Homo sapiens: one gene and its partners. The protein of the gene in region 2 purifies or fractionates together with the protein of the main gene of each other region. This does not show direct contact. Each region holds a gene or a part of one and is shown on either strand. Other genes may lie near its edges. The genes, in order: AZGP1, DDX31, TCN1 and MSLN.

The links.
Region 1: the proteins of DDX31 (region 2) and AZGP1 purify together in Homo sapiens (affinity purification with mass spectrometry; 2 studies listed by BioGRID and IntAct, with this or other methods). This does not show direct contact.
Region 3: the proteins of DDX31 (region 2) and TCN1 purify together in Homo sapiens (affinity purification with mass spectrometry; 2 studies listed by BioGRID and IntAct, with this or other methods). This does not show direct contact.
Region 4: the proteins of DDX31 (region 2) and MSLN purify together in Homo sapiens (affinity purification with mass spectrometry; 2 studies listed by BioGRID and IntAct, with this or other methods). This does not show direct contact.

What each region holds. Positions count from the first base shown.
Region 1 is NC_000007.14:99,973,023-99,980,294, reverse strand, and holds the start of AZGP1 (zinc-alpha-2-glycoprotein precursor), read left to right. Parts: upstream 1-4,263; 5' UTR 4,264-4,274; coding exon 4,275-4,350; intron 4,351-7,272. UniProt on the Homo sapiens protein: Stimulates lipid degradation in adipocytes and causes the extensive fat losses associated with some advanced cancers. May bind polyunsaturated fatty acids.
Region 2 is NC_000009.12:132,666,962-132,674,697, forward strand, and holds the start of DDX31 (ATP-dependent DNA helicase DDX31), read right to left. Parts: upstream 3,023-7,736; 5' UTR 2,974-3,022; coding exon 2,899-2,973; intron 2,713-2,898; exon of another isoform or gene 2,711-2,712; coding exon of another isoform or gene 2,609-2,710; intron 1-2,608. Other genes in the region: GTF3C4 (general transcription factor 3C polypeptide 4), read left to right, coding at 3,638-3,994. UniProt on the Homo sapiens protein: May have DNA helicase activity and RNA helicase activity. Probably have ssDNA and RNA dependent ATPase activity. Plays a role in ribosome biogenesis and TP53/p53 regulation through its interaction with NPM1.
Region 3 is NC_000011.10:59,863,466-59,870,981, forward strand, and holds the start of TCN1 (transcobalamin-1 precursor), read right to left. Parts: upstream 3,023-7,516; 5' UTR 3,006-3,022; coding exon 2,927-3,005; intron 622-2,926; coding exon 442-621; intron 1-441. UniProt on the Homo sapiens protein: Binds vitamin B12 with femtomolar affinity and protects it from the acidic environment of the stomach.
Region 4 is NC_000016.10:756,799-763,753, reverse strand, and holds the start of MSLN (mesothelin isoform 1 preproprotein), read right to left. Parts: upstream 3,021-6,955; 5' UTR 2,933-3,020; intron 2,682-2,932; 5' UTR 2,580-2,681; intron 1,083-2,579; 5' UTR 1,074-1,082; coding exon 989-1,073; intron 522-988; coding exon 478-521; intron 113-477; coding exon 63-112; intron 1-62. UniProt on the Homo sapiens protein: Membrane-anchored forms may play a role in cellular adhesion. Megakaryocyte-potentiating factor (MPF) potentiates megakaryocyte colony formation in vitro.

The DNA of each region.
Region 1 (7,272 bases), on a different chromosome or scaffold from region 2:
GGACATTCCCATTCCCATCTCTCCCTCTTTCCTTTAGGTGCCTGTGGAATCCCAGCCTTCCATGATGGAAGCAGAAATAGCCGCATCCTCCTTTTGCAGCCTCCCTGGCAATAGAACGAGCAGGTGTGCACAGGGTTTATGCTCAGCAAGTCGAAGCTACTGCCTTGGATATCAGGTCAAGTGTTAGGGAAACAAAGAGGAGGGCACAGTGGACAATGTTTTCTGGTGGTCTTGGCAGGGGTTGCAACTGCCAGCTCCCGGGGCAGTGGGGCTGCAGTAGCTGCGGGGGGCGTCTTGAGCTTCAGTCCCCCGGGATGTTGTAGATCCCGTGCTGTGGCCTCTGCTGCCCCCTGCTGGCAGCTTCTGTATATTTACTGGGCCGGTTGCAGGTGTGATTTTGACTGTTGGGCTCCTCTGGAATTCTGAGCCTGGGTTCTCCATCCTTTCTGTGGATTCTGAGAGCTAACCAATAAATACGTTTATTTTCTGCTTAAGGTCAGAACTGCATTACGTTTCCAATAACAAATACTCCTGGCGGATACAGAGATTGGTACAAGGATTGTTTCCAGGCAGTATTTACTCAGGGAAATGGAGGGCTGGGAAGCTGAGGTTGGTTACTGGGCCAGATTGGGGCTGCGCAGTGAAAACACAAGAGTCTTGGGGGATTCTGGCAGGCCTGGTGTGCAGTGATAACTTCAACAGTTGGCTGAGGTATCTGTTATGGTAGATTGGTGTAGGGACCAGCCCCACAGGGTCGGAGGGTTTTTCTCCCCGTGTGCAGAGACGAGAGAGTGTAGAAATAAAGACACAAGACAAAGAGATAAAAGAAAAGACAGCTGGGCCCCGGGGACCACTACCACCAAGACGTGGAGACCGGTAGTGGCCCCGAATGTCTGGCTGCGCTGTTATTTATTGGATACAAAGCAAAAGGGGCAGGGTAAAGAGTGTGAGTCATCTCCAATGATAGGTAAGGTCACGTGGGTCATGTGTCCACTGGACAGGGGGCCCTTCCCTGCCTGGCAGCCAAGGCAGAGAGAAAGAGGAAGAGAGAGAGACAGCTTATGCCATTATTTCTGCTTATCAGAGACTTAGTACTTTCACTAATTTGCTATTGTTATCTAAAAGGCAGAGCCAGGTGTACAGGATGGAACATGAAGGCGGACTAGGAGCGTGACCACTGAAGCACAGCATCACAGGGAGACGGTTAGGCCTCTGGATAACTGCGGGCGGGCCTGACTGATGTCAGGCCCTCCACAAGAGGTGGAGGAGTAGAGTCTTCTCTAAACTCCCCCAAGGAAAGGGAGACTCCCTTTCCCGGTCAGCTAAGTAGCGGGTGTTTTCCTTGACACTGAGGCTACCGCTAGACCACCGTCCGCTCGGCAAGGGGCGTCTTCCCAGACACTGGCGTTACTGCTAGACCAAGGAGCCCTTCTGGTGGCCCTGTCTGGGCATAACAGAAGGCTCGCACTCTTGTCTTCTGGTCACTTCTCACTATGTCCCCTCAGCTCCTATCTCTGTATGGCCTGGTTTTTCTTAGGTTATGATTATGCAGCGAAGATTATTATAATATTGGAATAAATTATAATATTGGAGGATTATTATAATATTATAATATTGGAATAATAAATTTGGAAAAAACTAATGATTAATGATATTGATATATAATCATATCTATGATCTAGATCTAGTATAACTCTTGTTGTTTTATATATTTTATTATACTGGAACAACTCATGCCCTCGGTCTCTTGGCTTGGCACCTGGATGGCTTGCCGCCCACATCTCCCCCCTTTTTATTAACTAGGATCGCCATCGCCATCATTGCTTGTCGTTGACTTCGGATTTGTTTTCGGACTCCTTGGAGGCATCTGCAGGCTAAAAGGAGACAACGTAAGCATACCAATATTAATAATGCCAGTGACAACAATGATCCTCCAAGGGGTTTGATCTATTTAAAGGGATTAAGATCAGATAATTGTTTAGTTATGCCTTCAAAAATGTCTGAGCCAGGAACAGTGGATAAATGAGCTTGTGAATCCTCGAAAATTTGCTCTTTAAGTTTTGAAATATCCAAGGTTAAGTTATCATCCCAGGCTTTTAAATGTCTTGAGACATTTTCCCAGCTATGTTGATATTTATTATAAGCATAAGGCATTATGCAATAATCAGAAGTATTCCAATCACTCTGTAATTGCATACGGTGTTCCAAATTCATATCTCCCAGCCAGATTACACTTTGGCGGAGATCATTAATTTGATTAGCTAATTTTTGATCAATTTGAGCCTGAGAATTCCAAAGTCTGGAGGAGTTTTTCTGCCATGCTTCAATTCAACATATTGAACGGTTTGAACAGAATTGTGGATGGCAACTCCAGCAGTTGCTGCTGTTGCAGTAACCGCAATTAGTCCTGCAATGATGGCAATAAGAGTAAAAATAAATCTCTTTGTTCTTTTGCGGATACCTTTAAGAACTTCATTGACTATGTGAATAGAGGGGGAAGACTCCCATGGACGATGTAAAGAAACTGGTATCCATACCCCCTCCCTAGCCCTTACCAAGAGAGTACTTGTAGTGGGATTAAAAGTAGCATCAATGCACGTGAACAGCTTACAGTTATCACATTCTATAGTTTGTGTATTGGGAATGATAATTATATTTCCAACCAACAGCATGTAAGGGGGTTTGACATAGCTCCTGATGGGTATCACCCGTTCAGATATGAGGGTGATGTTGAATGTGGGTGTTTTGGTATTAGTGTGAAGGAGTTGATAGGTAGTGTTCCATATCCTTATTCCTGTCATAGCTGCAGCTAATTTTCATAGTTGAGGATGTTCTGGGGTAACAAAGGGATGAATCATTTTTGGTCTAGGAGGAGTAATGCCTGCATCCATCCATTTAAATAGGTAAGGGGACACCCATTGTCTCAGCCTGTATGACTGCCATCCATCCTCTACATAATCTAACAAATAATTAAACTCTGAGCATGAGGTATTTTTGCTGGAGCAATCTTGCCAATAATGCCCTTTTGGAGCCCAATCAATAACAATACCTGCGGCTAGACTTTGGAGCACAACGGCCTTAGGAGCATTACAATTATTCCATAAAATTGAAGTCACTATAAAAGGTCCCTTTGTAGGTTTCTTTAACCAAAAGAGAGGCTGGGCACAGTTGCTCACACTAGTAAACCCAGCACTTTGGGAGACCGAGGCGGGCAGATCACGAGGTCAGGAGTTCAAAACCAGCTTGGCCAACATGGTGAAACCCCTGCCTCAGCTTCCTGAGTGCTGGGATTATAGGCATGTGCCACCACGCGCAGCTAATTCTTGTATTTTTTCAGTAGAGACGAGGTTTCATCATGTTGCCCAGGCTGGTCTCGAGTACCTGACCTCAACCTGAGGTGATCCAACCACCTCAGCCTCCCAAAGTGCTGGGATTACAAGCATGAGTCACCGCACCCGGGCCCCAGTCACTTTAGAATAGCATGTTGCTTTGTATTCGGAGGGTCTCTCTGCAAATAGCCCATCAACACTGAGCGTGCCTGGAAAGACCTGGTTTTCAAATAACTGGCTTCGTCTGTGTAAAACGAGTCTTGTTGTATGCATTAAAAATTATCTTGGCTGGGCGTGGTGGCTCACGCCTTTAATCCCAGCATTTTGGGAGGCTCGTTCTGTTGCCAGGGAGGCTGCAAAAGGAGGATGCGGCTATTTCTGCTTCCATCATGGAAGGCTGGGATTCCACAGGCACAGAAAGGAAGGAGGGAGAGATGGGAATGTGACTGTCCTCCAGACACAGCCTCTGGCAGGATCGGATGTGGGAGAGTGAGGGTCCCACCCCAGCTGGGGTCTACCCAGGTCCATGTCTTGGACATGTTGAGAGTTTTTCTGGAAGGCAGGGATACAGTGTGGTCCAAAAACACACAAATGCCCCTACTGGCCCAGGGGTTGTCACAATAGACTGGAAGGGTGACACATCCCAGGCGCTTGCCACCCATCACACGCACCTCCTACCCACTGGCATCCTTCCACCCCAGGCACACACAAAGCCTCAGTCCAGAGATCAACTCTGGACTCAGCTCTGAATTTGCATATCCTGTGTGTAGATTCATTCTTCATAACCTCTGCCCAGCCTAGCTTGTGTATCATTTTTTTTTCTCTATTAGGGGAGGAGCCCGTCCTGGCACTCCCATTGGCCTGTAGATTCACCTCCCCTGGGCAGGGCCCCAGGACCCAGGATAATATCTGTGCCTCCTGCCCAGAACCCTCCAAGCAGACACAATGGTAAGAATGGTGCCTGTCCTGCTGTCTCTGCTGCTGCTTCTGGGTCCTGCTGTCCCCCAGGAGAACCAAGATGGTGAGTGGGGAAAGCAAGGGATGGGTGCTGGAGAGGACTGGAAGGAGGTGAGGAACAGGACATGTGGCTGGGAGACAGGCTGGATGCAGCTGGGATACCCTGGCATACGGCAGGAATGGGTGCCCAAGGCTGTCAACTCCCTCAGCTCACACACTTCCAGGAGCATTCAGGGAGCCTCTGCGCTGGCCCGAAATAAGACCTTCAGGAATCTGAATCTAAAACCCCTAGTTTACAGTGAAAACAAAGACTCCAAAGACCAAGCGACCTGCTTGGGGTAGACAGTCAGGACGGAGTAGGAACCATATGCCTGGAGCTGCTTCTGCTCCTGTTCCTTCCCTCCTTCCGATGGCTGGGTACACCTGCCTGACGCTGAGGGAAAGAGAGAGCAGCCCCAAGGGGAAAGTGGGAAGGCAGGTTGGCTGGAGGGATGGTGCTAGAAGGAAACCCGTGCCCAAATCCCACACTCAGACACCACTGCAGTGGGTCTGGAAGGCGAGTGGCTGGAAGAGAAGAGAGTGGGAGCTCCGGGAGATCAAGAGTCACTCCTAGGATAAGGGAAGGAGGCTGTTTGTGGCATGAGAATGTGCAGGATAAAGACATGGAAGCGAATGGCTTCTCAGTTGTGTGAGTTTAAAATTCATGACATTTACAAATTGTCAGAAAAGGTGTTATATGTTTGTTATATAACAATCACTTTGGAATGTTAATCTGATTCTGTGCCAAAATCTGAATTACTCAGGGTTCTCCAGAGAAACAGAACTAATAGGTGGTACACATATACATATATATGTACGTACACATACATACATACACTGTATACACATGGATACACACACACATAGGAAGAGATTTACATATATGTATACAAAAGAGAGAGAGAGTAGAGATTTATTTTAAGAAATTGACTCACACTATTGGGAGGAGTAACAAGTCCTAAATCTTCAGAGCCGGCCAGCAGGCTGGAGACCCAGGGAAGAGTTGATGTCTTAGTCTTGATTCCAAGGGCAGACTGTAGGCAGAATTCTTTCCTCTTTAGGGGACATCTGAGGCTTTTTCTCTTAAGGCCTTCAACTGATTGGATGAAGCCCACCACTATGGAGAGTAATCCACTTTACTCAAGGTCTACTGATTTTTTTGTAAATTAAAAAAAAAACTGTGGGTGCATAGTATGTGTATATATTTATGGGGTACATGAGAGGTTTTGATTCAGGCATGCAATGTGAAATAATCACATCATCAAAAATGAGGTATCCATCCCTTCAAGCTTTTATCGTTTGTGTTACAGACAATCCAATTATACTTTTTTGGTTATTTTAGTTTTTAAAAGTATTTGATTATTTATTTATTTATTTATTTTTGAGACAGAGTCTCACTCTGTCACCCAGGCAGGAGTGCAGTGGCATGATCTCGGCTCACTGCAACCTCCGCCTCCCAGGTTCAAGCAATTTTCCTGCCTCAGTCTCCTGAGTAGCTAGGACTACAGGCACCTGCCACCACACCTGGCTAATTTTTTTGTATTTTTAGTAGAGACGGGTTTCATCATGTTGGCCAGGCTAGTCTTGATATCCTGACCTCGTGATCTGCCCGCCTTGGTCTCCCAAAGTGCCGGGATTACAGGTGTCAGCAACTGCGCCTGGCCTCTCTTTTGGTTATTTAAAAGTGTACAATTAAATTATGATTATTATTATTATTTTTGAGATGGATTCTTGTTCTGTCACCCAGGCTGGAGTGCAGTGGCGTGATCTTGGCTTACTGCAAACCTCCGCCTGTTGGGTTCAAGCAATTATCTTGCCTCGGGTGTACACTGCCACACACGGCTAACTTATGTATTTTTAATAGAGATAGGGTTTCACCATGTTGGCTAGACTGGTCTTGACCTCTTGACCTCAAGTGATCCACTCACTTCAGCCTCCCAGAGTGCTGGAATTACAGGCACGAGCCACCACACCTGGCCCCAGTTAAATTATTATTGACTATAGTCACCCTGTTGTGCTATCAAATAGTAGGTCTTATTCATTCTTCTTTTTTTTTTTTTTTTTGTGACAGAGTTGCCCAGGCTGGAATGCAGTGGTGCAATCTTGGCTCACTGCAACCTCTGCCTCCCGGGCTTAAGCGATTCTCCTGCCTCAGCCTTCTGAGTCGCTGGGACTACAGGTGTGTGCCACCACGCCCGGCTAATTTATGTATTTTTAGTAGAGATGGGGTTTCACCATGTTGGCCAGGCTGGTTTCGAACTCCTGACCTCAAGTGACCCACCTGCCTCAGCTTCCCAAAGTGTTGGAATTACAGGCATGAGCCACCACACCTGGCCCCAGTTAAATTATTATTCACTGGAGTCACTTTGTTGTGCTATCAAATAGTTTTCTAACTATTTTTTTTGTACCCATTAACCACCCTCCCAATTTCCCCCCAACCCTGCCACTACCCTTCCCAGCCTTTGGTAACCATCCTTCTACTCTCTATGTCCATGAATTCAATTGTAGGGTCTACTGATTTAAAGGCTAATCACATTTAGACACTCAGGAGCAAGAATAATTTTAGTAATTGAACTAGGATTCTGCCATATGACCTCCAACATCATTAGCACCTGTGTAAATTGTATCATAAAATAATTATGGAACTATTATGGAAATGTCCCTCTCTCCCAGATCCCACCTTGTACCAAAATGCAAGGTACAACCCCGGGAATTCTGAGCTCCATCCTAGTCTTACCCTGTGCTAATTCAGTCTGGGTCATTTCTTGAATTTTCTGGTAAATTCTCCTTTCTACCCTTTCTAACTATATGTATTTGTCAGGTTAAGCTAGAAGTGTTAATTTTTTTTTTTTTGAGATGGAGCCTTGCTTTGTCACCTAGGCTGAAGTGCAGTGGCATGATCTCAGCTCACTGCAAGCTCCGCCTCCCGGGTTCATGCCATTCTCCT
Region 2 (7,736 bases):
CTCGGCCTCCCAAAGTGCTGGGATTACAGGCGTGAGCCACTGCGCCAAGCCTTTTTTTTGTATTTTTAGTAGAGATGGGGTTTCACCGTGTTGGCCAGGCTGGTCTCCAACTCCTGACCTCAAGTGATCTGCCTGCCTCGGCCTCCCAAAGTGATGAGATTACAGGTGTGAGCCACCTCGCCCAGCCCAGAAAGTATTTTTAGAGAGAAAATTTCTGCATAGTGTTAGATACAGCATAATTTAAGCTGTTAGTCTTTCTAAATCCAGTATATTAGCTACCCATCTCAAGTTCAGGCTACTGGCAAGTCTCATCAGCATATCCATCATTCTCATTCACGACATCAATGAAAATGTAGATCTAGGCCTGGCTGGCTCACGCCTGTAATCCCAGCACTGTGGGAGGCCGAGGTGGGCAGATCACAAGGTCGGGAGATGGAGACCATCCTGGCTAACACACAGTGAAACCCCATCTCTATTAAAAATTCAAAAAAATTAGCCGGGTGTGGTGGTGGGCACCTGTAGTCCCAGCTACTCAAGAGGCTGAGGCAGGAGAATGGTGTGAACTCAGGAGGCAGAGCTTGCAGTGAGCAGAGATCGCGCCACTGCACTCCAGCCTGGGAGACAGAGCGAGACTCCATCTCAAAAAAACAAAACAAAACAAAACAAAAAACGTAGATCTAGACAAGGCCACCGCAGACACCTGTCATCACTGCATTAATTAATCCCCTTTTGATAACCATAAAACTAGGTAGCCTATATGTATTTACTCAATGCTTCTTATGTGTTAGTTACCAGGCTCTGCAGAGGACACAAGCACCCCACTGACCTCCTGATGTAGCAATCTATTATCCAAAATGGAGCCAAAACTACTTTATACTGTTGGCATTTATTAAGTGCTTCTATGGGCCAGACAACGTATAGTCTTCATGTATACTATCTCAATGAATCCTTACAATAGTCTTCTATGGAGTAGAAATTATTGTTCTCATTTTATAGATAGGAAAAGTGAGAATCAGAAAGATTAAGTGACTTGCTCCAAGGTCACAGAGCTAGTGTGCAGCAAGGGCAGCATCCGAATCCCAAGTGTATCCTATTCCAAATCCCATGCTCCCAGTGGCTCTTCTATCCTTCTCCCCGCTCCACCCAGATGCAGCTACACTTGGCTAGCTGGACTCCTTACTGCCAAACATCTAAATCCTAAAGTTTGATGATCACTTTATGATTTTAATCAGTCTTTCTGTCCTGTAGTCCTCTTTTCTAAGAGACAAATCAACTATCCTAGAAACCAGTTTTCAGTTACTGCTTAAGTTAATTCTAGGGCATCTTACCCCTCTCTAGCAATGGGATTATATCAATGAAACCGATTTTCCTATCCCCCTCCATTGCATGGGGATGAAAATCTGTCCCATTTTTGAAAGCTCTTCAAAAAAACTCCTAGTTGCCAGTCCTCATTCCTGAAACAAACGAACCTTCCTCATGGCGACCAAAAGAGTTAAACTCAAAAATATCTGAAGAGACTTATTCTGAGCCAAGTATGAGTGACCATGGCCCATGATCCAGCCCTCGAGAGGTCCTGAGAACATGTGCCCAAGGTGGTCGGGGTGCAGCTTTTTTTTTTTTTTTTGAGACGGAGTCTCGTTCTGTTGCCCAGGCTGGAGTGCAATGGCATGATCTCGGCTCACTGCAAGCTCCGCCTCCTGGGTTCACGCCATTCTCCTGCCTCAGCCTCCCGAGTAGCTGGGACTACAGGCGCCCACCACCACGCCCAGCTAATTTTTTGTATTTTTAGTAGAGACGGGGGTTTCATCTTGTTAGCCAGGATGGTCTCGATCTCCTGACCTCGTGATCCGCCTGCCTCGGCCTCCCAAAGTGCTGGGATTACAGGCGTGAGCCACCGCGCCCGGCCGCGGCTTGGTTTTATACATTCTAGAGAGGCATGAGACATCAAATACATTTCAGAAATACACTGGTTTTGTCCAGAAAGGTGGGACAACTCAAAGCGGGGGCTTCCAGGCTATAGGTAAATTTAAACATTTTCTAGTTGACGGTTGAGTTTGTCTAAACACCTGGGATGGATACAAAGAAAATGCTCAGGTTAAGATAAAAGATTGTGGAGACCAAGGTTCTTTTCAAGTCTTTAGTGGCTGCCCTTAGAGACAACAGACAAGTGTTTCCTATTCAGATCTTTGAAAGGTGGTAGACTCTTAATCTCTTTAGGATTGGGAGGGCCTGGAAGAAAAAGATCTAGCTATGTTAATAGAGATTCTTTGCAGATGCAAATGTCCACCCCGCCCGCCCCCCCCAAAGAACAGCTTTGCAAAGCCATTTCAAAATGTGGCAAAGAAACATGTTTAGGGGTAATATTTTAACTTTCTTCTTTGTCACATAATGTTAGGCCAGAGCCAGTTTGGAAAGTAAGTCACGATATATAGGGTTAAATGAAAGCCATCTGATGAGAATTTATGGTTTGTAGGGCATGACTCTTCCCAGACAGGAATGTGGGCAAGATAAAAAAAAAAATCAGAGCTTAGTCCGCACTCAGTCGAGGAAACTGGCTTAGAGAAGTTAAGCTTTGGCCTGGGACTTGCGCCGGAACTTCAGGTCCTACCTTCCACGGGAAACAGCCTCTAATTCCTTCCTTTACTTTTCTAGGCGCAGGAGCCAGCTCCCCGCCCCTCCACACCGCTCCACTCCCCGCTTCCAGGCGCATCCCTGCGGGTGGTGTTCCGGTTAGAGACACGTGTTTCGGCGCAACTTGTCCCGAAGCTGCCCGGTGTCTTTCTCCCGCTTAACTCCGTGAATGACTCGAAACCCGACTCCAAGGCACGGCTGCAGCTCGCGGCGCGCCCACAGCCGGGCCGCGGGTGGGGACGGAGCTGAAGCCGGGTCAGAACTCACCCGACTCGCCTGGGCTGGGGGACGTCTGGAGAACGTCCTGGGGTTGTCGAAGAGCGAACCGTCGGCGGCTGCCATGGTCTGCGTGGGTGACGCGTGGTGCAGCAGCGAGCCCGGTGCGCAGACTGCTGGGCCCGGGACCCCACGTGGGACGCGCGAGGACCCTGCGCCACCGCCCCTTCCGGGTCCGGAACGGCTCCAGCTGTACGGACTCGTCCCGAGGGGAGCCGGGGACGGCGGCACCGGGCGGGTAGGGACAAGACTACCGCGCGTGCCCCCGCCTGGTGGCAGCCCCTCTCTGCGTCCCTCGCGGCCTGGCAAAATTACATTCGGCCGAGAGTTCACGCTGGGGAAGCTCTCTGAATGCCTCTGAGAAGCGAGATCCGGCGCCATCTCACCGACGAGCCTCCCCTTTACCGCCCCGTGCGTTTCCTCAGCACTTTAGGAACTAAAGCCTGTCTGGGTAGCTCCCTAACAGGCTCTGGAGCTCAATCCCTGGGCAGGGAAAAGGGGGTCCTCGGGGCTCCCCGCTCGCTGTCCTTTTTCTGGACAGGCAGTTCCTTGGCCACCTGGTAGGGCCGCGTTGCCTGGCAACGGCGGGGTCCTTCTTGGCTCGGCGGCGCTCGGGGCCTGAGGGGAGAAAACCGCCGCGGAGGGCGCTGGGGGTGGCGGCGGCGGTCCGGGAGGTGGTCGCGCGACTGCGTGGAGCGCCAGGGCGTCCGACCTCTGCACCTGAGAGAAGATGAACACGGCCGACCAGGCCCGGGTGGGGCCCGCGGACGACGGGCCTGCGCCGTCTGGGGAGGAGGAGGGAGAGGGGGGCGGCGAGGCGGGCGGGAAGGAGCCAGCAGCGGACGCGGCCCCGGGGCCCAGCGCTGCATTCCGCCTCATGGTGACTCGGCGGGAGCCGGCCGTGAAGCTGCAGTATGCGGTGAGCGGCCTGGAACCGCTGGCTTGGTCCGAGGACCACCGCGTGTCTGTGTCCACGGCCCGCAGCATCGCTGTGCTGGAGCTCATCTGCGACGTGCACAACCCGGGCCAGGACCTGGTTATCCACCGCACCTCGGTGCCCGCACCGCTCAACAGCTGTCTCCTCAAAGTAAGTCATCCCCCGCCATCCCTGGGGTCTTCCCCTGTCCCCCTCTCGCGGCCGCATCATCCGTCCCAGGGGAATCCGATCCCACACTCTGTCCGGGGATTTCCCTCTTCGCACCGAGCGCTGGGGATTTATTAAGCAGCCAGGGTTACCACAGCTTAAAAAAAAAAAAAGAAAAGCTCTGCAGCTGTCTGCACCCTGTTTCCCCAGGTCACCCGCCGCCGCAAACACAGGTACACACCCAGGGGGCTTCCCGGAGTTGAGTCCCAGGAACCCCTCCTTCGCCCCTCCGTCGGGCCCGCACATGGAGCGGGTTACTCGATGGTGCTTTCTGAGACTCCACCCCCTGTAGATCCAACCCGGGGCCTGCCTCTGTCGTTGCTGCTATTGTTTGGGGCCGACTTTCCGAGGTTCTTGGCTGGCTTTGTCTACTGTGTGTGTCCTCCTCTCGCGCCTCTTTAGCTTCAGAAAAGAAAAACTGGTCCCATCCATTGTCTTAATTGTTTCAGTGACTTTATTATGAATGGTCCTCGCCTCTCCTTGGGCAAACGGGTAAATACTGGATCTCGGGGTTTGTACTTTAGTTTTTCTTTACTAGCTAAACATCTTTGGGATGTTGAATGAAAATAAAGATTCGAAACAACTACCTATCTTAAACTTCAAGCGCAAGGTCAAGTAGTAAGCCATAGCGTTCCTTTTAGTTGCTTAGAGGTGTAAAAACTTTCCATATATCCTTGATAGAGGTGTACGCTTACATGTGAACTGTCAGTGTATATTCATACATTCAATAGATATTTGAATACCATTCTGCTTGGTGCTGCCCCATGTTCTGGAAATAAAGCAGTGTACAAAACAGAACCCCTGCCCTCATGAAGCTTACATTCTTTGGCAAGTCAAGCACAAATGATAAGGTCCTGTCAGGTAGTGATAAGCACTGTAAAGATGTGTATCCGCACATAGAGAACATGTTTATGTGTTCGTAAACTCTTATTTTGGAAAACCATTGAAAATATGAGTCATTAGCTATAGGTAGGGTGCAGATAACCCTCATCACTTTGTAGCATACTTAATTCAAGTTTCAAACATCTTTCTGTTGTTAGATTGTTAGTCAGCTTGTATGACTAAGCTTCCTCTAAGATCTTCTTGAAGAAGATATGAACACATTTGTTCAAGTGTAAACAAATCAGATAGACAGATGCAACCCTATGAAATTGAGAAATACAAAAGGAGGGAGGCAGAAGAAAGGTGATTTAAAAGGTGTATCTTCTGCTGTAAAGGAATTTAACTGTTTCCAAGGATGTTCATCCGCACAGCAACTCAAGGAAAGTATGTATGTCAGTATAGTAGACATCGAATACCTTAGCAGAGAGAATGTAAAGAAAGGAGGGAGTAGTAAGGGGAGAGACTTATGGGGCAGGTCATCTGGTGGTGAATCTGCAGCAGTCCTAAAGAAGGTAGTGTTTGGTTTGTAAGAGGAAGGAAGGAAAGGGCATTCCAGGCGGCAGGAATGAGGCATTCATCCCATGTGCATACACGTTTAAGTCATGAACATAATTAATTATTGTTTGTATAATGACGGATCAGTACATGAGCTCAAGTAGGTCTTCTAGAGAGTCCGAGAAAGTAAGATGAGACCAGTTTGTGGACTTGGAAGGTCGGTATGAGGAAGTTGGCTTCAATCTAGGAAGTCTTTAAGATGCTGTTACAGTTTCATTAGCATAGAGTGACCTGCTGTGGTTCAGGAACATTACTGGATAGAGGCAAGAAGATGATTGTTGTGATCAGTGTAAAATAAAAGTGAAGAGACTGGGCTTTGGCACAAGATAGGCCTATCTATAAAAGGGGGATAATGAAGCGTTGTTTAGGTTTTTTGGAAGATTAAACACACATAATCACTTGGCCCAGTTCTTGGCACGCTGTAAATGCTCAAGGTGAAAATATAATGAGTTGGGCCGGGCGCGGTGGCTCACGCCTGTAATCCCAGCACTTTGGGAGGCCGAGGCGAGCGGATCACGAGGTCAGGAGATCGAGACCATCCTGGCTAACACAGTGAAACCCCGTTTCTACTAAAAATACAAAAAATTAGCCGGGCGTGGTGGCGGGCGCCTGTAGTCCTAGCTACTGGGAGGCTGAGGCAGGAGAATGGCGTGAATCCGGGAGGCGGAGCTTGCTATGAGCCAAGATTGCGCCACTGTACTCCAGCCTGGGCGACAGAGCCAGACTCCGTCTCAAAAAAAAAGAAAGAAAATATAATGCAGTTATACAGGTATGAAGGAGTAGGAGTCTGGATTAATGTCGTGGTTGTGGACATGAGTATTCTGATAAAATTTTGACTGTCATTTTGCCTCAGTTAACATTTACCACAACTGCTAACTAGTAACAGGAAATCCTTATATAGCTCTCTTATAGTTGACAAATGGCTTCTATGAAATTAATTAGTAACATCTTCCCCTTCTGTACTGTTGTTTTTTTTTTAATATGCACATCACATAAACCATCAGTCATTTAGCAGTCTTTTTAGACTGATTGAAGTGAATGAATGCTGAGTTGACCCTGCAGTTCTACAAGAGCCCTCTGTGGGTTAAAACTGGTGTGACGGTAGGAATGTAAAGAAGTCTGTGTCAGCACTTTGATGACTCCACCCATTGGCAGTCTGTGGATTTAAATCTGCTCGGTGCCGTGCAGCATGCCTTCGCGCTAACCTAAATGGTGGACAGTCTGCAGCGCAGATGACAGTTTTAGTGTAGCACTGTTAGAAAGCTAGGTACTAAACACCTTTGAAGCTTTTGCTCTATAATTCTGTTATTTAGATTATGAATTTGCAGGAAAATCTGCAGTTATGTAATAGTTCAGACATTAATTATCAGCTGTTTTATAAGATTGTATGATATAAAGGTGGACAGTATAAATCTGAAAAGCAATGAAATAGTGATTTAAGAATGTCAGAATTGTTTTTCCCATTGGACTACTGATTTAGTGACTCATCTAGTGAGACATTTGTGTATAGTTCCAAATTCTGATAATATTTGTGTACCGAATTGTATTGTGCATCAATTGTTAGGAGCCTTAGAAAGTATTAACTTCATCTGCTACATTAAGTTAAATAACTGTTGCCTGTCTTTGGACTCTATTACCTGTCCTCAAGAAGCTTACTGTCTAAAAGCTTCAAGTGAATTTTTGTCAGGTGCTTACAAAATGCCTAACAGTTAGTATTAAAAGTATTTGCCATTAAAAGTGATGGTGAAAACCGCAATTACTTTTGCACCAACCTAATAGTGGTCAACTGGAAACTGGATGGTGTACAATTAAATGATTGGCTGCGGGCAGGCCTCTGGGAGCTGGACTTTTTAAGTATACTCCTTGGGCATCTGAATACTTGATTTGTTAACAGTTTTGTGATAGGGAGAGTTGGAGGGAGGTTCAGTAGTCTAGTTGAAACATATGTCAGAAATTGCTACACAAAACCCTAAGACTTTTTCCTACCAGTCAAGATCTGTACTGCTCTCCATCCTGTCAAGAATTCTTCCCACAATGAGTAGGACCAAGGGTTGCTTAAGCTTCCTTTATTTCATCCCGTGCTGCTGCTTTGGGTTACCAATCCTGTGAGTTTACTTCTACAGTAGCTTTTATTTGTAGCAAATTTAACCTATTCTAAGGAGTATTGCTTAGTTCACAGTATTAAAGGATTTGATGAACAATTTTATATCTACCTTTCATTTGGTACACAACTTTATGTCTACCTTGC
Region 3 (7,516 bases), on a different chromosome or scaffold from region 2:
GGCTTCTTTTCCCCTTATACTAATTAGAAAACTGAGGCTCAGTATTAACATGACTGGTTCAAGGCCCACCCATACCTAGTTCAAATCTGGGTTGTTCCATGGTTGCCTTTCCATCACCAGCTTTCTTAGTTATGATCTGTATTCCCATGTGGTTGTGAACTAAGCTAGCTTATATAACAGCATTAATGGATAAAAATCCATAGCTTTTGTTTGTGGCTTCTTGAAGAAAAGTGGTTTTTAAGACCAAAAGAAGCAAGACCTAGCTCTAGGGTGAATGGCATGGGATTGTATTTTGGGCATGTTTCTGTTACCTCAAGTTTGGTACCATTAGAAGGGATGTAGCAGGGATACTTTGGATGCATAATTTTTTAGGATTAGTTGCAGATAATCTTTAAATAGGTAGATTTTTTTCTAAATCTTCCAGAATATACAGCAACTTACATCTGCTTTTCACATTGTATTTGATTTGTTGGATCATCTTTTGCATCAGGGTTTGGATCTGGATTCCAACAAGTTTGAGGGACAACACAACATTGACAGCGCTGGTTCCCCTGTTATAGTTTGACTGGATCATTGTATTCAACAGAGGTTTTAGGCGGATGTAGTTTTCTTCACTTACCTCTGTGGCAGAGAAGGAAGGAAATAAGAAACACATACTCAGAAAATAGTAAGACTTGCAGCAGGGGTTATATAAAAATATTTAGTAACAGATATGGCACAGACCTAGACCAATCCAGTGGCTGCAGACTGTGTTGGTGGAATAATACAAAGGTGGGTCTTGAACCCACCCCCATGCCAGACATTACTCCTTTAACAACCAACATGAAAATGTTTTAATATTTTAACAACTGGTGCAGACTTATCATTGTGTACTGGCAGACTCCTGCCTGGGAAATCTAGCATCATTCCCTAATTTTGTATATGAAGCTTAGATAGATTGTCCTTAAAGAAACTTCCATAATTGGAGGCTGAGCTGAAACTAGACTACATGTCTTCTGACTCTCAGTAAGCAGGACTTTCTACTTCCTGGATTCAGTTCTTTCCTTCTCCATCTTCTAAATCAACTGGGTTAATGTTGAGAAAATGCAGGTAATAATTCTGTGTTATACTGGTGATTGACCCCAAAACTTCATTGTCTGATTACCCAGCTGGCTGGGCATCGAGATCATTATTTAGCATTATGCAGCCTGTAAAAAACTCTCCAGTTTTAGCCTACAATATGCCCCAATTCCAGAGATGGAGGGAAGTCACATTATACTGTGGAAGTAGGAAAATCCATAGCTCCCAAGGAAATAGAGGAGAATAAAAAGATTTACTATTTATTTAAACACAGGACACTTTGTCAATGTATTTTTCCATAATCTTGAGGAGTAGCCCCAAATCCTACATATCTCCAGATTATCTAATGGATTAGTGGGAGAGTGAGAAGAACATGAGGTTTGGATTCAGATTTTGGCCACATTTTGTGCTCCTTAACTTATGACTGTGGATAATAACTTATGTAACTTGTTTTACTCTTAGTTTTCTCATTTAAAAATTGTGGCTGTTAACACTTACCTTACAGATATTGGACAAGAAACCACCGAATAAACTGTAAAATGCTGCACATACTATTATTTCCAGCTCAACTGGAGTTTTTATCACTATACTTGAGAATCAAGGAAATGTAATTTCTCTTGCCCAGTTTTCTTTACTTTAAAAGAATGAGTCAAGAAGATCTGAATAGAGTGATTGTAGAAAGGTCATGGTTTGTTGCAGACACAATGGAACAATTGTGAGTCAGTTCTCTGAGATTTTGTGGAACCATCCAGCTCAGCAGATTTTCTGGCCCTGAAACAGACTTTTTAGTTCCTGATCAACAACTCAAATCAGCTTCCTTGAGTCTCAAAGATAAATTTAATTATTATCATTATTATTTAAAATGAATTGAAAGCTAAAACCTACATAGCCATTCCCTATTCTTAGGATCCAACAGGGGAAATGTCAAGCCAAGAAGAAAAATCAGAGTCAGAAGAGTCTATGCTTTAGCCTGTATGTATACAAGCCTGTCTTCTGTGGTGTTCTCTTCTTACTGGTTAGAGAGCACAGATAGTACCACCTAGTAATCTTTGGACTGGTTTGAAGCTCAATTTCAGAGTAAAGTCTCACAAAAGAGAATTCATGCACTTGAGAACTGCACCAGACTTCATGAGATAATTTGCTTCAATAGTCTCCCCTCATTATCCTTTATTTATGAATGAAGCTAAAGAAATTCAGAAATGTTGGGTCATTCAATAACTAAGGGATCAAACTAAACCTGAATTTAGTTTTCCCTTCTCTTACTTTAAAGTTCTTTTACAGAACCACACAATCTCTGGGGTCAACACCCATGCAAGAGATGATGGAACTTTATCCCATGTGTCCTGGGAAAGAGTTGAAGGAAGGTGGACATGCAACTTGGAACATCTAAACTCACTCATGACAAGACAGCAGTCATCACTATTTGAAAGAGATTATTATTTTTTTCTATGTAGTTACAAGGGGTTAACCCAAAAATCATGCATTGAATTTCAGGGAAAAAAGATTGCATATCAAGACCAAAAGATAACTTTCCATGATCTAGAAAAGTTTCTGGGAGCATAAATTTTCTGTCATTGAAAAGTCACATGAATAGGGAGTTACTTGGTAGGGATGCTGTGCTAGAGAGGATCTGAGCATAGAAAGAGCAGTTAGGCAAGTGAATACACAATCTATAATTCCTCTTACAACAACATGCATTGTGAGACTTTCCTCACCATCTCCTGCCACCCTTTTCATCATTCATGGAGTCCAACCACATACGAAACTGGAATGGGATCTTTTCTCAGGTAACTCTACATAGAGTCTCTTGTCAACAGTTTTCAGTAGACTATCACTCTAGAGTAATTTTAGCTCAAAGTTTACTCACCACAAATCTCGCATAGTTGGCTTGGAATAAAAGAAAACAGTAAGAGCCCCACTAGGGGCAGCTGGTGTGACTGTCTCATCTCTCCAACAGTGTACCAGAATGTTGATGAATTGGCTGGCTATTTATTAAGTGATGGGCAGAAGGTAATGAGAGCTCCTCCTTCAGGTTGCCTCAGCCTCTTTTCACTCAAGCAAATATTGAGCAATGTCAGGAGGTGTGGTCAAGTGTATTTGTCCATGTGATGTAATAAATAAGGAAGAAGACTTGAAGGATGTGGTTAGGGAGAATAAGGCAATAACTTTCCTTTGTCTCCTGTCCTAAACCTTCGGGTTTCATATCTATTATTTGCCTTCCGTGCAGTGAAGATATATTAGGCAAATGACTGTTTCCTATAATCTTTCCTTTTTTTTCCGTTTCACTTTATGTTTTATGTTTCCTGATAAAGTAGATTTGATCATGCAAACACATACAACATATAAAAATGGAAGTAAAAGAAGACATCCAAATGGGAAGCAGGCATATGAAAAAGTGCTTGAAAAGGTGCTTAACATCATTGATCATCAGATAAATGGAAATCAAAGCTACAATGAGATATCCTCTCATCTCAGCTAAAAATGGCTTTATTCAAAACACAGGCAATAACAAATGCTGGCACGGATGTAGAGAAAAGGGAAGCCTTGTACACTGTTGGTGGGAATGTAAATTAGTACAATCACTATGGAGAACAGTTTGGAGCTTCCTCAAAAAACTAAACATAGAGCTACCATATGATCCAGCAATCCCACTGCTGGCTATATACCCAAAAGAAAGAAGACCAGTATATTGAAGAGATATCTGCACTCCCATGTTTGTTGCAGCACTGTTTACAATAACCAAGATTTGGAAGCAAGCTAAGTGTCTATCAACAGATAAATGAACACAGCAAATGTACATATACACAATGGAGTACTATTCAGCCATATAAAAGAATGAAATCCTGTCAGTTGTGACAAAATGGATGGAACTGGAGATAATTATGTTAAGTGAAATAAGCCAGGCACAGAAAGACATACATTGCATGTTCTCACTTATTTGTGGGATCTAAAAATCAAAACAATTGAATTCATAGAGATAGAGAATGAAAAGATGGTTACTGGGGGCTGGGAAGGCTAGTGGTGGGAAGGAGATGCGGAGGGTTAATGGGTACAAAATATTGGAAAGAATGAATAAGACCTACTATTGGTAGCATAACAGGGTGACTATAGTCAATAATAATTTAATTGTACATTTTAAATAACTAATAGTATAACTGGATTGTTTGTAACGTAAAGGATAAATGCTTGACAGGATGAATACCCCCTTCTCTATGATGTGATTATTACGCATTGCATGCCTGTATCAAAACATTTCATGAGCCCCATAAATATATACACCTACTATGTACCTACAAAAATTGAAATAAAAAAATTTAAAAACGGAAGTAAAAGTTGTAAGTCTGAAATTGAAGCAGGCAGTATTGGAGAACCCAGCACATGAGGGGATCTTTGGCATAGTGGTTTCCAAACTATGATTTTTCTCCTAAGATAGATTCCATGAGAGTTTCCTAACCAAGGAGGAAAACCAGAGAGCTATACATCAAATGTGAATTTCTGCCCTGCCAGGGCAGTTGCTACATGTGAGAAGTGTTGCCTATCACAGTTCTTCTGAGAACTATTAGAGAATACTGTCAGCCTAGCTAAGGATGTCATGACTTAATGAGCCACTATTTGCATTGTACCTCTGTGATGGTTAATTTTCTGTGTCAACTTGACTGGCACCTGAGTGCCCAGATTAAACACTATTTCTCGATGTATCTGTGAGGGTGTTTCCAGATAGGATTAGCATTTTAATTGGTGGACTCTGGAAAGTAGAATGCCGTCTCCAATGTAGGTGTGCATCAATCAATCTATTGAGACCCTGAATAGAATAAAATGGTGAAGGAAGGGGGAATTCACCCTTTTTTTGCTTCCTGCCAGCCTGTTTGAGCTAGGACATCTTATCTTCTCCAGCCCTCAAACTGAGATTTACACCATCGGCTCCCCTGGTTCTTGGGCTTTCAGTTTGGCCTGAATCACTCCACTGACTTTTACTGCATGCAGACAGTAGACTGTGGGACTTCTTAGCCTCCATAAGGGCATGAATCAACTCCTTGGAATAAATCTCTTTCTCTCTCTCACATATTTATATAAAACTTATGTGGAAACCACCATTCTACTCTCTGTTTCCATGTATTTGATAATTTTTAGAATCTACATATAAATGAGATCATAGTATTTGTCTGTGACTTATTTCATTTAGCATGATATTCTTCAGGTTCATCCATGCTGTCTCAAAGGGCACTATTTCCTTCTTTTTTATGGCTGAATACTATTCTATTATATAAATATAAATATATATATACACACACACACATATATGTGTGTGTGTATATAAATCACAATTTTTATCCCTTCATCCATCAACAGATATGTAGGTTGTTTCTATGTCTTTGATATTGTGAATAATGCTGCAATGAACATGGGAGTACATATTTTATATAATATATATTTTTGTTTGTTTGTTTGTTTGTTTGTTTGTTTTTGAGACAGAGTTTCTCTCTTGTCGCCCAAGCTGGAGTGCAATGGTGCAATCTCAGCTCACTGGAAACTCCACCTCCCGGGTCCAAGTGATTTTCCTGCCTCAGCCTCCAGAGTAGCTGGGATTACAGGTATCTGCCACCACACCGGCTAACTTTTCTATTTTTTTTTAGTAGAGACAGGGTTTCAACATGTTGATCAGGCTGGTCTTAAACTCCTGACCTCAGGTGATCCACCCACCTCAGCCTCCCAAAGTGCTGCGATTACAGGCGTGAGCCACCGTGCCCATTCGGGAGTACATATATTTCTTTGAAACACTGCTTTTGCTTCCTTTGGATATGTACCCAGAATTAAGATTGTTGGATCATATTGCAGTTCCATTTATAATTTTTTGAAGAACCACCACACTGTCTTCCATAATGGTTGTGCAAATTTACATTCTGCAAACACAAAGGATTCTCTTTTCTCTACATCCTCATCCATACTTTGTTATCTTTTGTCTTTTTGATAATAGTCACCCTAACAGGTATAAGGTGATGTGATTATTCTGATTTGAATTTCTCTGATGATTAGTGATATTGTGCATGTTTTCTCATGCCTGTTTGCCATTTTTATGTCTTCTTTGGAAAATGTTGAGGTCCTTAGCCCATTTTAAAATCAGGTTATTTGTTTTGTTTTTGTTTTCATTTTGCTATTGAATTGCATGGTTCTTACATATTTTGGATATTAATCTATTTTCAGATATAGGTTCGCAAATATTTTCTCAAATATTCCACAGCAACTTGGATGGAGCTGGAGGCAATTATTCTAAGCAACACAGGAGTAGAAAACCAAAAAAAATATTTTCTCACTTATTATTAACATTATTTCATTCCTTTTAATGGCTCAGTAGTAGAATTCTTCTATACCCAATTTGTTGAGAGTTTTTTTTTATCATGAAAGGATGCTAAATTTTTTTGATTGATTTTTTTTTTTTTGCTTTTTTTTTAATGTGCTGTTGAATTTGGTTTGCTAGTATTTTGTTGAGGATTTTTGCATCTATGTTTATTATGGGTATTGGCCTGTGATTTTTTTTTTTTTTTTGGTAGTGTCCTTATCTGGCTTTGGTATTAGGGTAATACTCATCTTGTAAAATGAGTTTGGAAATATTCTTTCTACAATATTTTGGGACAGTTTGTGAGGAATTGCCATTAATTCTTCTTTAGGTATTTGGTTGAATTCACCAGTGAAACATCTGGTCCTAGGCTTTTCTTTGTAGGGAGGTTTTTGATTGCTGATTCAGTCCCCTTATTTATATTTTTGGTCTGTTCAGATTTTCTATGTCTTCATGATTCATTGTTGGCACATTGTGTGTTTCTAGGAATTTATGCATTTCTTCTAGGTTATCCCATTTGCTGGCATATAATTGTTCATAGTAGTCTCTTATGATTCTTTGTATTTCTGTGATAGCAGTTGTAATGTCTTCACTTCTTTCATTTATAATTTTACTTATTTGAGTTTTCTCTCTTTTTTCTTGGTTAGTCTAGCTAAAGGTTTGTCGATTTTTTTTTATCTTTTCCGAAAACCAACTTTTAGTTTTGTTGATCTTTTCCATTGTTTTTCTATTCTCTATTTTATTTGTTTCTGCTTTGATCTTTGTTGTTTCCTTCTTTCTGATAACTTTGGGTTTAGATTATTCTTTTTCTAGTTCCTTAATGTTTAAACTTAGTTTGTTCATTTGAAATCTTTATTTTTCCTTAATCTAGACATTTATAACTATGAATTTTCCTCTCAGTACTGCTTTTGCTGTATCCTATATGTTTTCAGATATTGAGTTTACCTTTTCATTTGTCTCAAGATACTTTTTACTTCCTCATTAATTTCCTCTTTGGCTCCTTGATTGTTCAGGAGTGAATTATCTAATTTCCATGTATTTGTAAATGTTCCAATTTTTCTCACATTATTGATTTCCAGTTTCATACCATTGGGGTCAGAAAAGATACTTGATATAATTTCA
Region 4 (6,955 bases), on a different chromosome or scaffold from region 2:
ACCCTCAGTCCCGAGGGCCCCTCGAGCCTCACCCTTGAGGACTGTGAGGACCCCAGACCCACCTGGAAATGTTAGGTGGGTTGGCCAGGACTCCGTCCAGGGGCGCAGCCTCCTGGGGACACAGGGCCTGCTGAACATGGCTCAGACCAGCTCTCTGGAGCAGGAGTTCCCAGGTCCCGCTACCCCTGGGCCAGGTACTCCCCGAGTTCAGCTACTTCCCAGGCCTGGCTGTGTCTCAGACCCATGGGCTTGGCTGCTTCTCATCCATCTACTTCCCAGACCCAGCTGCAATTTCAGCTCTGCCGCTCCCTGGACCTGGCTGCTCCCAGGCCAGTCACATGCAGGTCCAGGTGCCCCTTTGCAAGCAAGGACCGTGGAAACTGGCAAGCACCGTGGATACGTGACAGAGAGAACACAGCATGGCACCCCCACCTGGGACCTGAAGACCCTCCCCTGTTTCCCCAGAGGGGACCTTACCTGCCCTGTCTCTCCAGCCAGGGTCCTCGAGGGCTGCACCCATCCTAAAGGGGCAGAGGGGACAGCTTGGGGGAGGGGGCGGGCCTCTGGGCTGTGCCCTGACCCAGGGGAGGAAGGAGGCAGAGCCTGGCCGCCCCCACAGCCAGCCCTGTGCACACCCCAAAGAGAAGCCAGTGGCTCAGGCCCATGTACCCCGTGACATCACAGTCCCCCAGGCACAGGGGTCGGGACTCCACCAGGGAGCCCGGCCTTCCACATCTTTCCCTGAGACCCGGCTGCTTGGCCGGTCAGACCACCCATCCCACAGACATCCCCACTGTGTCCTGAGCCCCATCACTCCCTGGCTGGATCTCCAGCTCCAGTCACCTCTGGGGGCAGAGACTGCTGCTGAGACGTGGCCACCACAGGCACTCCAGGGAGAAGGCAGGGGCAGGCAAAGCCTTGCTGGGGGCCTGGCCCCCAAGGCCCCTGGGCCGTCCCCACCTCACCAGCAGCCCCATCAAGTACGCACCGAGGCTGAAGAGCAGGAACAGGAGGCTGCCGAGGGCGGGGGTCCCACAGGACCCCAACAGGGGTCGAGCCGTTGGCAAGGCCATGGTCTGTGTCTGTGGAGGGCAGTGACTCAGGATGGGACCCCCTGCTCCCACCCCACGCCTCTGTCCTGGGCCAGCCTGGGGCCACATGGGCCCAGGAGGGGCTCCCAGAGCAAACTTCTGTGGTACCTGCAGCTTGTGTCCGCACCCTGGCCCTGCCCTCCAGCCACTGAGCCCTCTGTCCCCTGGACTGGCTCCTCCTGTCCAGGGGAGGGGCTGGGTCTGAGATCCCGGTCCCCAGCCCAGACAGCCCAGGAGTCAGTTGGCGCCCACCCCTCTCCCAGAAGGGCAGGGCAGTGTGAGCAGAGCTTAGATCAAGCAACCGGGGCCGCCGCCCACTTGGGCTGGCCTGAGTCTCCCCACTCTCGCACAGGAGGACGAGCAGCCCCGTCGCCTGGATGTGGCTCCCTTCCCTCTCCCCTGCCCTCAGCTGCAGGTGCCTGGGCTTTGTGAACACCCCAGGCTCTGCCAGGCAGACAACACCCTTGAGGCAGGAGGGGCACTGCGGGCACAGAGGCCACCGCCCCTTCCCACCCAGCAGCGTCTTTTTGGGCCACTTGGCCTCTCTGAGCCCATTTTCAGGTGCAGTCCAGGTGGGGCGGGGCTGGGCCAGTGAGCAGCCTGGGGAGCCCCTTGTACTCTCTAGGGTGGGGCCTGTGGGCCACTGTGGGGTGGGGAAGTGGGTGGGGAGACCCTCCCTGAACAAGAATTGTCCTCCTGGGGTAGGGGTGGGGCTCGCAGAAGAGGGAACTGGCTTCTACACTCACCCCTTTCAGGGAGGCCACCATGGCGGAGTAGAATAGAGCTGCCTCCTGAAAACCTTGGCCCAGGCCCGGTGGGTCCACCCACAGCTCAGAAATGGGGGTCACACGCTCATGCTCAGCAGCCCCATCCACAGGCAGAGCCTGCCTGGTCGGCCCGGCCACTGGGGAATGTCGCGGGGAGGCACACAGCCTCCGGGTGACAGACTCTACTCCCCCAGGCCCCAGAGGAAGTGGGGAGGCCCCTGAGGCTCTGAACACCTTGAGAAGGTGGAAGAAAACAGACCCCCCCCACAGCCAGAAAATGGGCAGTGAGTGGGACCCCCAGCCCTTGGGGTGCGTGAAGCCAGGAGGGAAACGTGGCCATCGGATCACAGGGGACCTGGGCACTCCCCACCCCAGCTCCATGTGACCCAAGGACCTCAGCACCTGGGATGGGGGCTCCCCGAGAGCCCGGCCCTTCCTGCTCTGAGGGGCCTCTGCAGGCCATGGGGGGCCCTGGAATCTGCATCCTTTACACCTGCAGGAGAGCTGGGCTGGGGCCGTGGAGGCACCTGCACTGCCTTAGGACTGCCGCTTCCAAACAAATGGGTCTGCGTGTGCCCTGCGGGGTGAAATCTGCGTCCAGCTGAAGCCTGACCATCGCTCTGGTGCTGGAAGCCCGGCCTGGGGCGGCCCCAGTTCTCCAGATGGAAGGTGCAGATTCCATCCACACCACAACAGGAAGAGCTCAAAGGTTGTTACTTACAGATCCCAGGGAGGGAGGCACCGTGGGTCCACCGGTAGCTCTCTGTCCGCGCGTCACAGCAGACGGGAGTGGCCGGCCAGGCAGAAAGAGGAGTGCGTGGCGCTGGCAGCGCCCATGAGGAACAGGACAGCCCCTTTCAGATCGCGGGCCAATGCCCACACGTGGGCCTCTAAAGGGCGATGTGAAAGGGGAAGCCCAGCCCCCAGGCCTCTGAGGCCTTCTGCGCAGTTGGGTAGGGAGCTTTACCCCTAACGCCCGGGCAGCCCCCAGCCCTCCAGGTCCCGAGTGGCCCCTCCCAGGTCTCAGTGGGCCCTGCCCAGGGTAACTCTGATGTGCAGGGTGATTGGCCACACCTGAGCCTCCTCTGCCTCGGTTTCCTCAATTGGGAAGTGGGGGTGGAGAGCCTGGCAGCCTCCCGGGCCGTCAAAGGGAACAAATGACGGCTTTGCCCGGGGCAGCAGGGAGTGGTGGCGCCTCACGCCCCAGGAATGTGTGGGTGGAGACCCCGCACAGGAGCCTTGGACAGGCAGCGGGCCAGGCCTGGGGGAGGAGGGATGCCCAGGAAGGCAAAGCTGCCCTCGGTGGGCGAGGGTGGGAGCCCGGGCCCAGGTTTCACGGCTGCCCTGGGTGGGTGTGGGGCATGTGTAGGAGCCCGGGCCCAGGTTTCATGGCTTCCCTGGGTGGGTGTGGGGCGTGGGTGGGAGCCTGGGCCCAGGTTTCACGGGATCCCACTCTGATTCTCAGGTGCTGAAACCCAGGGAGCACTGGCCCCCCCAGTCGCAGGTCAGCAGGCTCTGGATGGTGGCCACGCAGCCCAGACAGGACTCCCGGGAGCACAAGCCTGACCCCCAGTGCAGTGTGGGCCTCGCAAGGCTGTGAGCCGTCCGTCTCAGGGCTGTGGGAGCACACAGGTCAGGGAGGCAGGACGGGGCCCAGCTCCAGGCACACGCACACCCCTTTCTCGCAGGGTCGACTGGAACAGAGCTGCCCCCGGGCGCTCTCTGGCCTGGCGAAGTGGGAGCTGTCTTCCCTACGCATCTGGGCTGGCTGCCTGCTGCTGATGGAAGAGCTGCTCCTCCTGACCTGGGGCCACAGAAGCCCCCTCCCTGCCCCTGAAACCCCTCCCAGCATGTCGTGAGCTCTTATCCCCAGTACGGAATCTGCCTCCGCTATGAACACCTGCAAAGGTTTGTGTGCTGAACGGAGGTGTGCGCGGCGGTCATCTCTGGTCTCTCCACAGAGTGGGTTTTCTATCGTGACTCGCGGTGGAATCGGACCTTCACGCACACAGAATTCAGCAAGGCTGCCAGGTGTAAGCGTCAACTTACAAATGTCAAGAAGGGATTAAGGGCCTTTTAAAAACTCCCTTCCGCAGAGAACAACTGAAAAATTCCAGACACTCTTGTAGCAAACCAGTTACCCAAGGGCTCTGGGGAGGGGACAGAAGGCAGCCGGCTTGGGCGGGAACTCACAGGTAAAGGGAGAGGCCAGCTCCGAGTGGCGTTCCCTTTGTGTCCACACAGCTTTGCTCTGAAGGAGCCGCAGGTTGGCTGCGGGGCTGTGAAGTGGCCCAGGCTGCCACGGACACCCACAACTTTCCCGGCCAAAGGCCAAAGGAAACCAAGGAAGGAGCCCAGAATACTCAGGGCCCAGAGCTCGAGGAGAGGCCTGAGCCGGAGGAGCCAAGGAGGCGCCCACGTGCCCAGCTGAGCCCTGAACTGAAGGAGCCGAGGAGGGTCCAGGAAGAGCTCGGAGGGCCCCGTAGACACGGCTGAGCCCTGAACAGGAGCCTCAGAGGGGCCCATGTGCCCGGCTAAGCTCTGAACCAGCCGACTGCAAGCTGCGGACAATGATGAAAACGCGCTGTGGCCAGCCTGGGCTCACCCTTCAGCCAGCACCGTGGGAGGCCGATGCGGGAGGGTCCGTTGAGGCCAGAAGTTCAAGACCAGCCTGGGCAACGTAGTGACACCTCATCTCTATAAAGAATCTTTAAATGAGGCCCTGTGTGGTGGCGCACGCCTGTCATCCCAGCACTTTGGTAGGCCGAGGTGGGCGGATCACCTGAGGTCAGGAGTTCGAGACCAGCCTGGCCAACATGGAGGAACCCCGTTTCTACTAAAAATATGAAAATTAACTGGGCGTGGTGGCACATGCCTGTAATCCTAGTTACTCAGGAGGCTGAGGCAGAAGAATCACTTGAACCCAGGAGGTAGGGGTTGCAGTGAGTCGAGATCACGCCACTGCACTCCAGCCTGGGCAACAGAGCAAGACCCTGTCTCAAAAAAAAAAAAAAAAAAAAAAAAAATGCCGGGCGCAGTGACTCACGCCTGTAATCCCAGCACTTTTGGAGGCCGAGGCAGGCAGATCATGAGGTCAGGAGATCGAGACCATCTTGGCTAACACGGTGAAACCCCGTCTCTACTAAAAATACAAAAAATTAGCCGGGCGTGGTGGCGGGCGCCTGTAGTCCCAGCTACTCGGGAGGCTGAGGCAGGAGAATGGCGTGAACCCGGGAGGCAGAGCTTACAGTGAGCCGAGATGGCACCACTGCACTCCAGCCTGGGCAACAGAGCGAGACTCCATCTCAAAAAAAAAAAAAAAAAAAAAAAAGCCCAGGCGTGGTGGCTCACGCCTGTAATCCCAGCACTTTGGGAGGCCGAGGTGGATCATGAGGTCAAGAGATCAAGACCATCCTGGCCAACATGATGAAACCCCGTCTCTACTGAAAAAAAAAAGAAAGAAAGAAAGAAGAAAAATAAGAATATCTGTGTGATTTTTTTTTTTTCTGAGACGGAGTCTTGCTCTGTCGCCCAGGCTGGAGTGCAGTGGCGCGATCTCCGCTCACTGCAACCTCCGCCTCCCAGGTTCATGCCATTCTCCTGCCTCGGCCTCCTGAGTAGCTGGAACTACAAGCGCCCGCCACCATGCCTGGCTTTTTTTTTTAAGTAGAGATGGAGTTTCACCGTGTTAGCTGGGATGGTCTCGATCTCCTGACCTCGTGATCCGCCCACCTCGGCCTCCCAAAGTGCTGGGATTACAGGCATGAGCCACCATGCCCGGCCATATCTATGTGTCTATGTGATTGAAAGAACGTAGATTCCTACCTCATATTATATGCAAAATTTACTCAAAGCCAACCATAGGCCTGAGTATAAAGGCTGAAACTATAAAACCATTAGAAGGAAATTCAAGAGGAAGTGTTTGTGGGCTTGGAACAGGCAAAGACCTGTTAGATGGAAGAAAGAAGGCAGAAACCATGACTGACACTGCTGCTCTTTGAATGATGCCGTGAAGAAAATAAAGAGCCAAGCCACAGAATAAGAGAAATATTTGCATGACATATACCCAGAATTGACAAGGAACATTTGCAGTTCAATGATAAGACAGACAATCCCGTAAAACCCAGGCCATATGTGCTGCAACGCGGCTGAGCCTGGAAACACGGACACGTCGTACGAGTCCCTTTAGATGAAACGTCCAGAGTGGGTCAATTTAGAGAGACAGGAAGTAGATGAGTGGTTTCGTAAGACCCGCGGGAGGGAGACCAGTCAGGAGGACTGACTTCTAAGGGGTATGGAGTTTCTTTCCTTTTCTTTTTTGAGATGAGTCTCCCTCTGTCGCTCAGGATGGAGTGCAGTGGCTCGATCTCGGCTCACTGCAAGCTCCGCCTCCCAGGTTCAAGCGATTCTTCTGCCTCAGCCACCGGAGTAGCTGGGATTACAGGCGCCCGCCACCACGCCCGGCTAATTTTTGTATTTTTAGTAGAGACGGGGTTTCACCATGTTGGCCAGGCTGGTCTCAAACTCCTGACCTCAAGTGATCAGCCCGCCTTGGCCTCCCAAAGTGCTGGGATTACAGGCGTGTGCCACCACGCCCAGCTAATTTTTGTATTTTTAGTAGAGACGGGGTTTCACCATGTTGATCAGACTGGTCTTGAACTCCTGACCTCAGGCGATCCGCCCACCTTGACCTCCCAATGCTAGGATTTCAGGCTGCAGCCACCACACTGGGCCCGAACGGTACTTCCAATGGGTAAATGGGTGAGCTGTATAGTGTGGATTATCTCTCAGTAAAGCTGTTATTTAAAAATGGGCAAAAGATTTAAACAGACACTGCACACACACACAAAAAGATACAAAAGCCAGGTGTGATGGTGCATGCCTGTAGTCCCAGCACTTTAGGCTGAGGTGGGAGGATCACTTGACCCAGGAGTTTGAGGCTGCAGCGAGCTATGACCACGCCACTGCACGCCAACCTGGGTGACATAATGGGACCCCATCTCTGCAAAAAATTTAAAAACTAGCCAGGCATGGTGACGCAGGCCTGAAGTCCCATCTACTTGGGAGGAGGAGGTGGGAGGATAGCTTGAGGCCAGT